2 linked regions of the Homo sapiens genome follow. The protein of the gene in region 1 binds, or shares a complex with, the protein of each later gene. Each region holds a gene or a part of one and is shown on either strand. Other genes may lie near its edges. The genes, in order: FNIP1 and LAMTOR2.

Evidence for each region.
Region 2: FNIP1 (region 1) and LAMTOR2 share a complex: the UniProt entries of both Homo sapiens proteins name them as parts of the lysosomal folliculin complex.

What each region holds. Positions count from the first base shown.
Region 1 is NC_000005.10:131,706,207-131,710,232, forward strand, and holds part of FNIP1 (folliculin-interacting protein 1), read right to left. Parts: intron 3,067-4,026; coding exon 2,995-3,066; intron 341-2,994; coding exon 205-340; intron 1-204. UniProt on the Homo sapiens protein: Binding partner of the GTPase-activating protein FLCN: involved in the cellular response to amino acid availability by regulating the non-canonical mTORC1 signaling cascade controlling the MiT/TFE factors TFEB and TFE3.
Region 2 is NC_000001.11:156,053,298-156,057,581, reverse strand, and holds the start of LAMTOR2 (ragulator complex protein LAMTOR2), read right to left. Parts: upstream 2,801-4,284; 5' UTR 2,693-2,800; coding exon 2,625-2,692; intron 2,320-2,624; coding exon 2,157-2,319; intron 1-2,156. Other genes in the region: UBQLN4 (ubiquilin-4), read left to right, coding at 3,881-3,988. UniProt on the Homo sapiens protein: As part of the Ragulator complex it is involved in amino acid sensing and activation of mTORC1, a signaling complex promoting cell growth in response to growth factors, energy levels, and amino acids.

The sequences.
Region 1 (4,026 bases):
TCACTGAACTGTACACCTAAAAATGGTTAAAATTGTAACTTGTTATGTATAACTTACCACAATTTTAAAAATGTAGTAAATTTTAAAAGTTTTCAGTTTCAAACTTAAAATACACAGAATACAAGTCCAGGTTCTAAAAAACCCATATAAAATTGTGTTTAAGGAACTACTCAATCTTGTTCTGTGTTTAAAGTTCCAACTTACCATCTAGGAAATACCCCATTTTCCAAACTTGTTGTTTGGCTGCGTCGCCAACGTCGCTGGTAGCTGCTGGCACAACTTCGGGTAAGTGAGGAGTTTGGGGAAGGAAATGGAGTGATCAGCAAGCTGCTGAGAGATGCTGTTAAGTCAGAAGAACAACAAGTATAAGTCAATAATGACTAAGCATAATGACAAATTTCTTTTTAACAAAATTACAAATAGGTTAAGTTAAACTTTATTTTGCTTCATGAGCCTCAAAAATGTTCATTAAAAGAACACATCCTTCTTGTAGCAAGGTCTCAGAGGAGAAAAATCATATATTAACAATGTATCAGCAAAAAACTCTGAGACAATCCCCTTTTGGCATTCCCCTCTAGGGACTCCAGAAGAAAATTATACTTTGCAACAAGGCATTATCCCTTTGGCCACTGGATTGACTGTCCCCTAACTCAGTTGAATCCTTTTAGTTCTTAAATTAAAGGAAATCTGATGCTATTCAAACTTAATGCAGCAGCTGGATTTTAAGAACAAGCTATTGAAAATAAGTGTCTGAATGGCATTTAAAGAGGTCATTTACAAGTATTCATGGATCACATGTGCACATGTAGTCAAACCTACCACTTTTAATTAAGAATCATGACTATACCTACTAAGCTCCAAAAAAAGAATGCTCCCTGGAGCATCTAAGGTGACAAACACATTCCAGCAGACTCCACTCTTTCACGGCTGCAATCCCCTGATCTTGGGGATGGATTATTCCCTTCCCGAAACACTTCTGTGAAATCTGTAAGATATGTTTATTGCTTGAGGTGTTAAGAGCTACAACTGCTGATTTTTCATTAGGCTAGGAGATTTTCATCAGGCTTTTCCCCACTGGATTTAGAGAGGATAACACTTGCCATTAAGGGCTTGCTTTTGTTTGGCAATATTCCAGACTTCTATCTTTCATGATCATAAGCACATACTGAAAATGTATATTCAAAACAGGGAACCATTATCATCACTATTAAAAAGGTACAGGCCAGATGATAAATTATTTTGGACACCAGCACTAAAAACTGAGACACTTTCATTATGAAGATCTATTCATTTGAATTCTGACAAATTCAATGATAGAGGATAAAGCTGTATGTGCCATGCAAACATGTAGACCATCAATGAACTCATTCTAAATTACTTTAGAATGCAGATTCTAAATGCAGACCACATTTTATCAATTAGTATTATAAACTCTTGTAGTCCAAGATTGGGTATGTACAACTAAATCTGGGTATGACTTCAGTGAAAAATAAAATGCTGTCCTAAGTTTGGAAAAAATACATTTCACTGCATTCTAATATTAAAAATAACCCTATTAGAAAAAAAAGAAAACACACATTAACTTAAATGGCATATATGAATCCAATAACTTGAAGCAGCCTAACAGATCAGTCTAGCCAGATGCTTCAACTTACAAAGAATGTAAGTATAAATAAATTATACTTAAATCTTAAATAAAATAATGAGAATTAAATTCCTGCCAGGGAAGACTAAATATCTAGATTACATCGAAGCAAAGTTTATTAAAAGAAATAAACTCTAGATTCTTTAAAACAAAAATAAGAAACTCAATTAGAAAAGAAAGATGAGATTACTTGAAAAACACAAGCTACTCTTATTAGAGTAGTGGTCGGCAACCCTAGCTATCCATTAGAATCAAGTGTTAGGTTTTGCATTTTGTTTTGTTTCACAAATACAGATGCCTAGAGATACCTTCTCTAGGTTACACGAGAGTCTTTGAAAGTAGAGTTCAGGCACTTGAATTTTTTATAAAACTTCTCTTTGTTATTCTAATACATACCTAGGGATTGCAATATACAGCAAGTTTAGATTTTTCATTTATACTCAAAACTGAATTACAAAACAATTTCGATAGCAGAGCCATATAATGTAACAACACATGCTATCACACTGAATTAAGTTTCTCATATCTAACAGTAATTCAAGCCTAAAATTACTCCTCCTTTTACTTATGCTGCTCTCTGGGCCCCAACAAACACTTTTCCTTTTAGCTAAAATGCTTTTCTGAGCTTTTGCCTGGATAACTGCTATTTATTTCTCAAAATACAACTCAATCATCATCCTTCTGTAAAGCATTGTTGGCATCCCTGCCCCTTGCCCAGGCTAAGTGTGGTGCTCTTTCGCTGAAGCTTTTTGCGCAGGCCTATCACTAAATGCATCACACAATGACCTATGACAGATGATTTTCCTAATTTTTCTCCCAGTAGACTCCATACATCTGTGTTCCGTAAGGGCAGACTCTGGGCTTTAATTTTTTTAATGTCCACCATGTTTCAATAAATGTTTGCTAGACCTACAAATTTTGGACAGGTCCATATTTGGAAAAAAAAAAAAAGTATAACATTGATTCAAAATGCCTATGCTTTTCTGGGCAAGAGACAATATGACAATTTAAACTTTAGTTAGCAGCAAGCAAATATAAGCAAACGTGTTTTTTTTTTACTACAGTTTCTAAGCAGTTTTTCTGACCAATGCTTTTCTTCTTATATTCACTAAGCTTCAACCAGTGTACTTTACTCTGGCTTTACTTCATCCTGGCTTTATCCTACTTAGCACACTTAAAAGTAAACATGAAAAATATTAAATTTATAAGACTTTGCTCTGGTCTTTTCACAGTTCTCTTGTAAGGCTAATATCAATATGAACAAATTTGATAATAAAGGGAGGGATAAAAAAGAAAATCAATGCCAACAGTAATCTCATAAAAAACTGAATACAAGAACGTGACATTACCAGACCGTGCTATGCCACTGTCTCTGTCCTCATTGAGCTCTCTTCCAGGCATGTCCATTGGGTTGCTGTGAACTATAAATAAAGATGAAACTGTCAGTTATAAAATATATTGCTATTCAGGTGGATGAACAGCTCCTTTTAAATAGCAAACGAAATCATGCTCATCTCATTGCATTCCCTTATTTTTTTCAATAGCATGGCACCAACCCAACACCAAGAGCTATTACTCAGTTGAACAAGCTTTGAGAGCTCTGTGAAGATTTGATACACAGTATAAGAATCTAAAACATAATATCTAAAGAAGCAAGGAGTGACTAAAAGTCATATTTTGGAAGCATATTCAGTGACATATTTATAATATACTATTAAATGAAAAAAAGCAAGCTACTGAACAGTATGAGTGCTTGCTGGGACCAAGTGGTGGGTATATCATAGTTCACTGTACTGTTTCTGCCTATAACAATGTATGTTTCAAAATTCTCTATAATAAATTGAGATATTTATTTGAATAGTATGATCCCCATTTTCTTTAAAAAACAAAAAAGCAGGTATTTCTGGCTGATAAAATGGCTAATATATATTTTTGCCTTTTAAAAGTGTTTTCCAAGTTTTCTACAAATATATATTTTTTATATCTAATATTTACAGGGAAAGAAAATATTAATCAAAACAAGAAGGGCTAAATTGATACCAATCTGAGAACAATGAAGAGTAAATGTGTTCACATTCCAGTAATTTCCACTAAAAGGTTACAATGTTAGGTAATCCGCTAAAATGTGTGAAAACAAGGAATATGATTAGAATCCTGGATATATACACATGAACATACTCTACAATCATCAACTTGATTATGTAAGCAAATATAGTCATATATGCCTTTTACAGAGCATTATAGTAGTGCTTGTTCATCTAAATCTTAGCTCCAAGAAAAACTGCTCTTATGGAATAGTGTAGATCAGAAATTTTACAATAATAACAAGATAGGATAATTTTCTGCAATTGGTGAACTATGGTACAAAAGCTACTCAGCCA
Region 2 (4,284 bases), on another chromosome or scaffold:
CTGGTATTTCTCCTCTTTTCCCATGGTAATGTTTTTCAAATTGCAGATTTGACCCCACAGTTAGGAGATAAATTAAGAAGGTTGATCAGCATTAAAAACCAAAAAAGAAAAAATGAAGTATATTACATGTAGTAGGAAAAGTATTGTTTCATGACTTTTGTTTTAGTGGGTCTATGTGTGTGTTGAGCTCTGACTTAAAATGTCTTTCTTAAAAAATTTTTTCCTATTTATTTATTTATTAAAATTTTTTTTGTAGAGATGGGGTCTTATTAGGTCACCAAGGCTGGTCTTGAACTCCTGGCCTCAGATAATCCTCCAGCCTCAGCCTCCCAAAGTGTTGGGATTACAGGAGTGAGGCACTGTGCTCAGCCTTAAAATGTATTTCTTTTTTTTTTTTTTTTTTTGAGATGGAGTCTTGCTCTGTTGCCCAGGCTGGAGTGCAGTGGCGTGATCTCGGCTCACTGCAACCACTGCCTCCTGGGTTCAAGTGATTCTCCTGCCTCAGCCTCCTGAGTGGCTGGGATTACAGGCACGCACCACCATGCCCAGCTAATTTTTGTATTTTTAGTAGAGATGGGGTTTCACCATGTTGGCCAGGCTGGTCTTGAACACCTGACTTTGTGATCCGCCCGCCTCGGCCTCCCAAAGTGCTGGGATTACAGGCATGAGCCACCATGCCCAGCCCCTTAAAATGTATTTCTTATGGCTGGGTTGTGGTCAAAACGTTTGAAAGCTATTGCCCTATAGCACCAGCTCTAGGCATCCAGTAGGAGTCATATGTTGAACTAAAAATGGCATTGGTTGTGCAGGGGGTAGGGGAGAGTAGGCAGTTGAGTTACAATGAAGATCCTTCCTGGAGAGTTCACCTTCTGGCCAATTTGAAAAAAACAAAAGTAAGTTCAGCAAACTTTTACTAGGTATTTATTGTATGCCAGGAACCAAGCACTGCACTCCCTGCCTCTCTGACCTCATCTCCTACTACCCTCCTCCATCTCACGTAACTCCAGCCATACCAACCAACCCTGTTGATCCTTGAGCAGGCATAATTCTGCCTCAGGGCCTTGGTACTTGCTGTTCTGTCCAAAATATTCTTCCCTCAGATAACCACATGGCTTGTCCCCCACCTTTCTTCAGATCATTGATCAAATGTCACCTTTTCAGTGAGACTGTCCCTGACACATACACCCAACAAACTCATACTCTTTCACTTCCCTGCTTTCTCTCCATTGCATTTTCAATACCTAATATATACTATATATTTTACTTATTTTAAAAAATGTGGCCAGGCACAGTGACTCACGCCTGTAATCCCAGCACTTTGGGAGGCCAACGTGGGTAGATCGCTTGAGCCAGGAGTTTGAGACCAGCCTGGGCAACATGGCAAAACCCAGTCTCTGGAAAAATGCAAAAATTAGCGAGGTGTGGTGGTGCATGTCTGTAGTCCCGGCTACTCAGGAGGCTGGGGCAGGAGGATCACCTGAGCCCAGGGAGGTCGAGGCTGCAGTGAGCCGTGATTGTATCACTGTGTAAGATTTATTAGGGCTGGGGGTTTTGTCTTTCTGTTTGCTATTTTTTCCCTAGTCCTGAGAATACTGCAAGGACCTAAATACTTGTCGACCGAACAGATACTAAGAAGTTCACAATCTAATGGTGACTTCCCCTTTCTGGACTTCATTTTCCTTTCTTTGAAAGCTTAAGGGGTTGGACTAGGGTCTGGAGACTGCCATGGTTCTGTGAGTCGGTGAAACTGGGATGACAACACTTTGTGTTTGCACGTCATTCTACTGTTTATACCCATTATTTCATCTGACCTTCACAACAACCCATGAGGGGAGCGGGGAGAGGGAAATTATTGTCTTCTCCTTAAACATGAGGTAAGGAAGCTGAGAGAGGTTAAGCGACTTACCCAAGGTTCCACAACTGATAAGTGGATGGCTGAGACCAGAACCCAAGTCAGACCTCTCAGGTCCAGGGATCCTTCCTCACCACCACTTGATGAATAGGGTCCTGCCTATTACAAATGCTGCTGCAGACCAACTCTTAGTAATCTTCCGGAGATCCTGTCCCTGCCCCTCCAACCATCCAGGATGGGGTCCAGGTCGCCCCCTTGGGATCCCCTTTGGGGGACAGGGGAAGTCTGGCTCCCCTCTCCATACCATGCAGTCCATGAGGATGAATTTGAGATTGTCTTCATTAAACGCTTGGTTCCCGTTCCGGTCGTAGGCGGCCCAGATGTTACTGGCTATGGCAGCGGTGACCCGGGCGTCAGTGTCCCCGTAACCAGAGTAGGCCAGCAGTGATCCCTCGTTATTCAGCAGCCTGGTGAGGGGCGGGGAGGGATAGCGATGTGCTCAGAGCGGGGAGTAAAACGTCTGGGTTTCCATCCCAAGTCCCACCAAGGGCACATCCAGCAAGGCTCTGGCCTGAGCGTGTCCCGGAACATGCCCTAAGCACCCAGCACACCGGCTTCCCTTTTCGACAGGGGACCTCCCGGCCGGTATCCCCAGCCGCTGCCCCCTCTGCCGCTTCCTCCCTTCCTGGTGATCCTTCCCCACCCCTCCCTCAGGGAGCCGCGCGCCGCCCCACTGCAGCGCTCGCCGCTCGGGTCCGTGGTCTGCACTCACAGGGTGCTCTGGACGCCTCCAGTGTTGGCTTGGCTTAGCACCTGGGTCAAAGCCTTGGGGCGCAGCATGCCTACGGTTCCTAACCCTGGGCTTTTGCACCCAGATCTCCGAGGTGCCTCCCGCGGGCCGCTGCCCGCTGCTTCCCGTAGTCCCGTTGGCCTGCTCCGGGACGCCCTGGGAGTTGTAGTTTCTTCGCCTGGCTATTGTGGTTCCGACTCAACCCCGCCCCACCGCGGGGGGCTCTGGGAATCGTAGTTCTTTGTGGCCTCGCGAGGCACCCTGGGAATTATAGTTCGCCTTTCCAAGCCGACCACGCGGTTGTTGGGGGGCGGAAAAGAACGGGAGTGAAAGGACAGCAGCAGCGCTGGAAGGACATTTAACCCCTTCGGGGAGAAAGGAATCAACGTGTCCGCTTGGCAGTCCACGATTCAATAATTATACTACATCCTCATATTTGTCAGGCACGCCTTTGGTTACTTTCAAAACAGTTTTCTCCGTTATGCACAATTCTGTGCGATGAGGCGAGAGGTACTATTATTATTATCTTGAGGAAACCAAGGCTCTGAAAGGCCACGCAGCCAAAACCCAGCTCCCTGGAACCGTTCTTAATAGACCATTCAGGCCGCGACCCTCGGGGCTATAGGGTCAGTCCCAGAGCTGAGAACCTAGGTGGACGTGCTTGGTGGGAAAACCCAACCTCCAAGTCGGGAAAGTCCCCTGGCCTGGAAGGGACTTGGGCTTCCAAGAAAGACCAAGTTATCACAGGGAACGGAGATAAAGCGGCGACACAGAAAGTCCTTTGTCCCGGAGCCGAGTTAGCCGCGGAGGGGGCGGGGAGGCTTTGGGCTGGAGGGGACCGCGGCACGGCTCGGGCGGGCAGCGTTGGGTCGCGGTCTCCCGGGGCAGTCCGCCCTCGCCCCCGCAATGAAGGGCACGCCCCTTCCCCCTCCCAGAGGCCCCCCAGGGGCCCCCGCCTGGCGAGACCCTGGCCGGGCTCCGGACCTGGGGCTTGGCCCTGGGCGGACCCCGCTGCAGTGGCCCCCCCGGTCCGCCCGGGGCGCTGTGGCTGCGGCTGGTCCGGAGGGGGCGGTGAAGCCTCGGGGAGGGGAGGGGAGGAGAGAGGAGGGGAGGGGAGGGGAGGGGAGAGGTGGAGAGAGGGGAGTGTTGGAGGCGCAGAAGCCGAGCCGGGCCGGCCGGGCGGGCGGGGAGGAGGAGGAGCCGGGCGGGCTGGCGGGCGGCCGGGTGGCGGCGGCGGCATGGCGGAGCCGAGCGGGGCCGAGACGAGGCCCCCCATTCGGGTCACCGTCAAGACCCCCAAGGACAAGGAGGAAATTGTGATCTGCGATCGAGCCTCGGTCAAGGAGGTAGTACAGCAGGCGGGGGGCGGGGGGAGCGCGGAGGAGGGGTCTGCGAAGAGATGGGGGGCCTCTCTGACGGTCCGGCGTCCCGGAGGGCCCCGGAGAGGAGGGCGGGGGCCGGCTGGGACTCCGAGGAGCTGAAGGCAAGGAGAGGCGGGTAGGGGGCGCCCTGCGAGGGGAGATCTGGGGGAGCGTGGCGCGTGTTGAGGGGCGGGTTTTGCCTTGTGGCCTGGGGGCGTGGTGGAGAGTGAGGAGGGGACACCTTGCACCGGGAAGGGGGAAGGACCCTGGGTTTGAGGGGA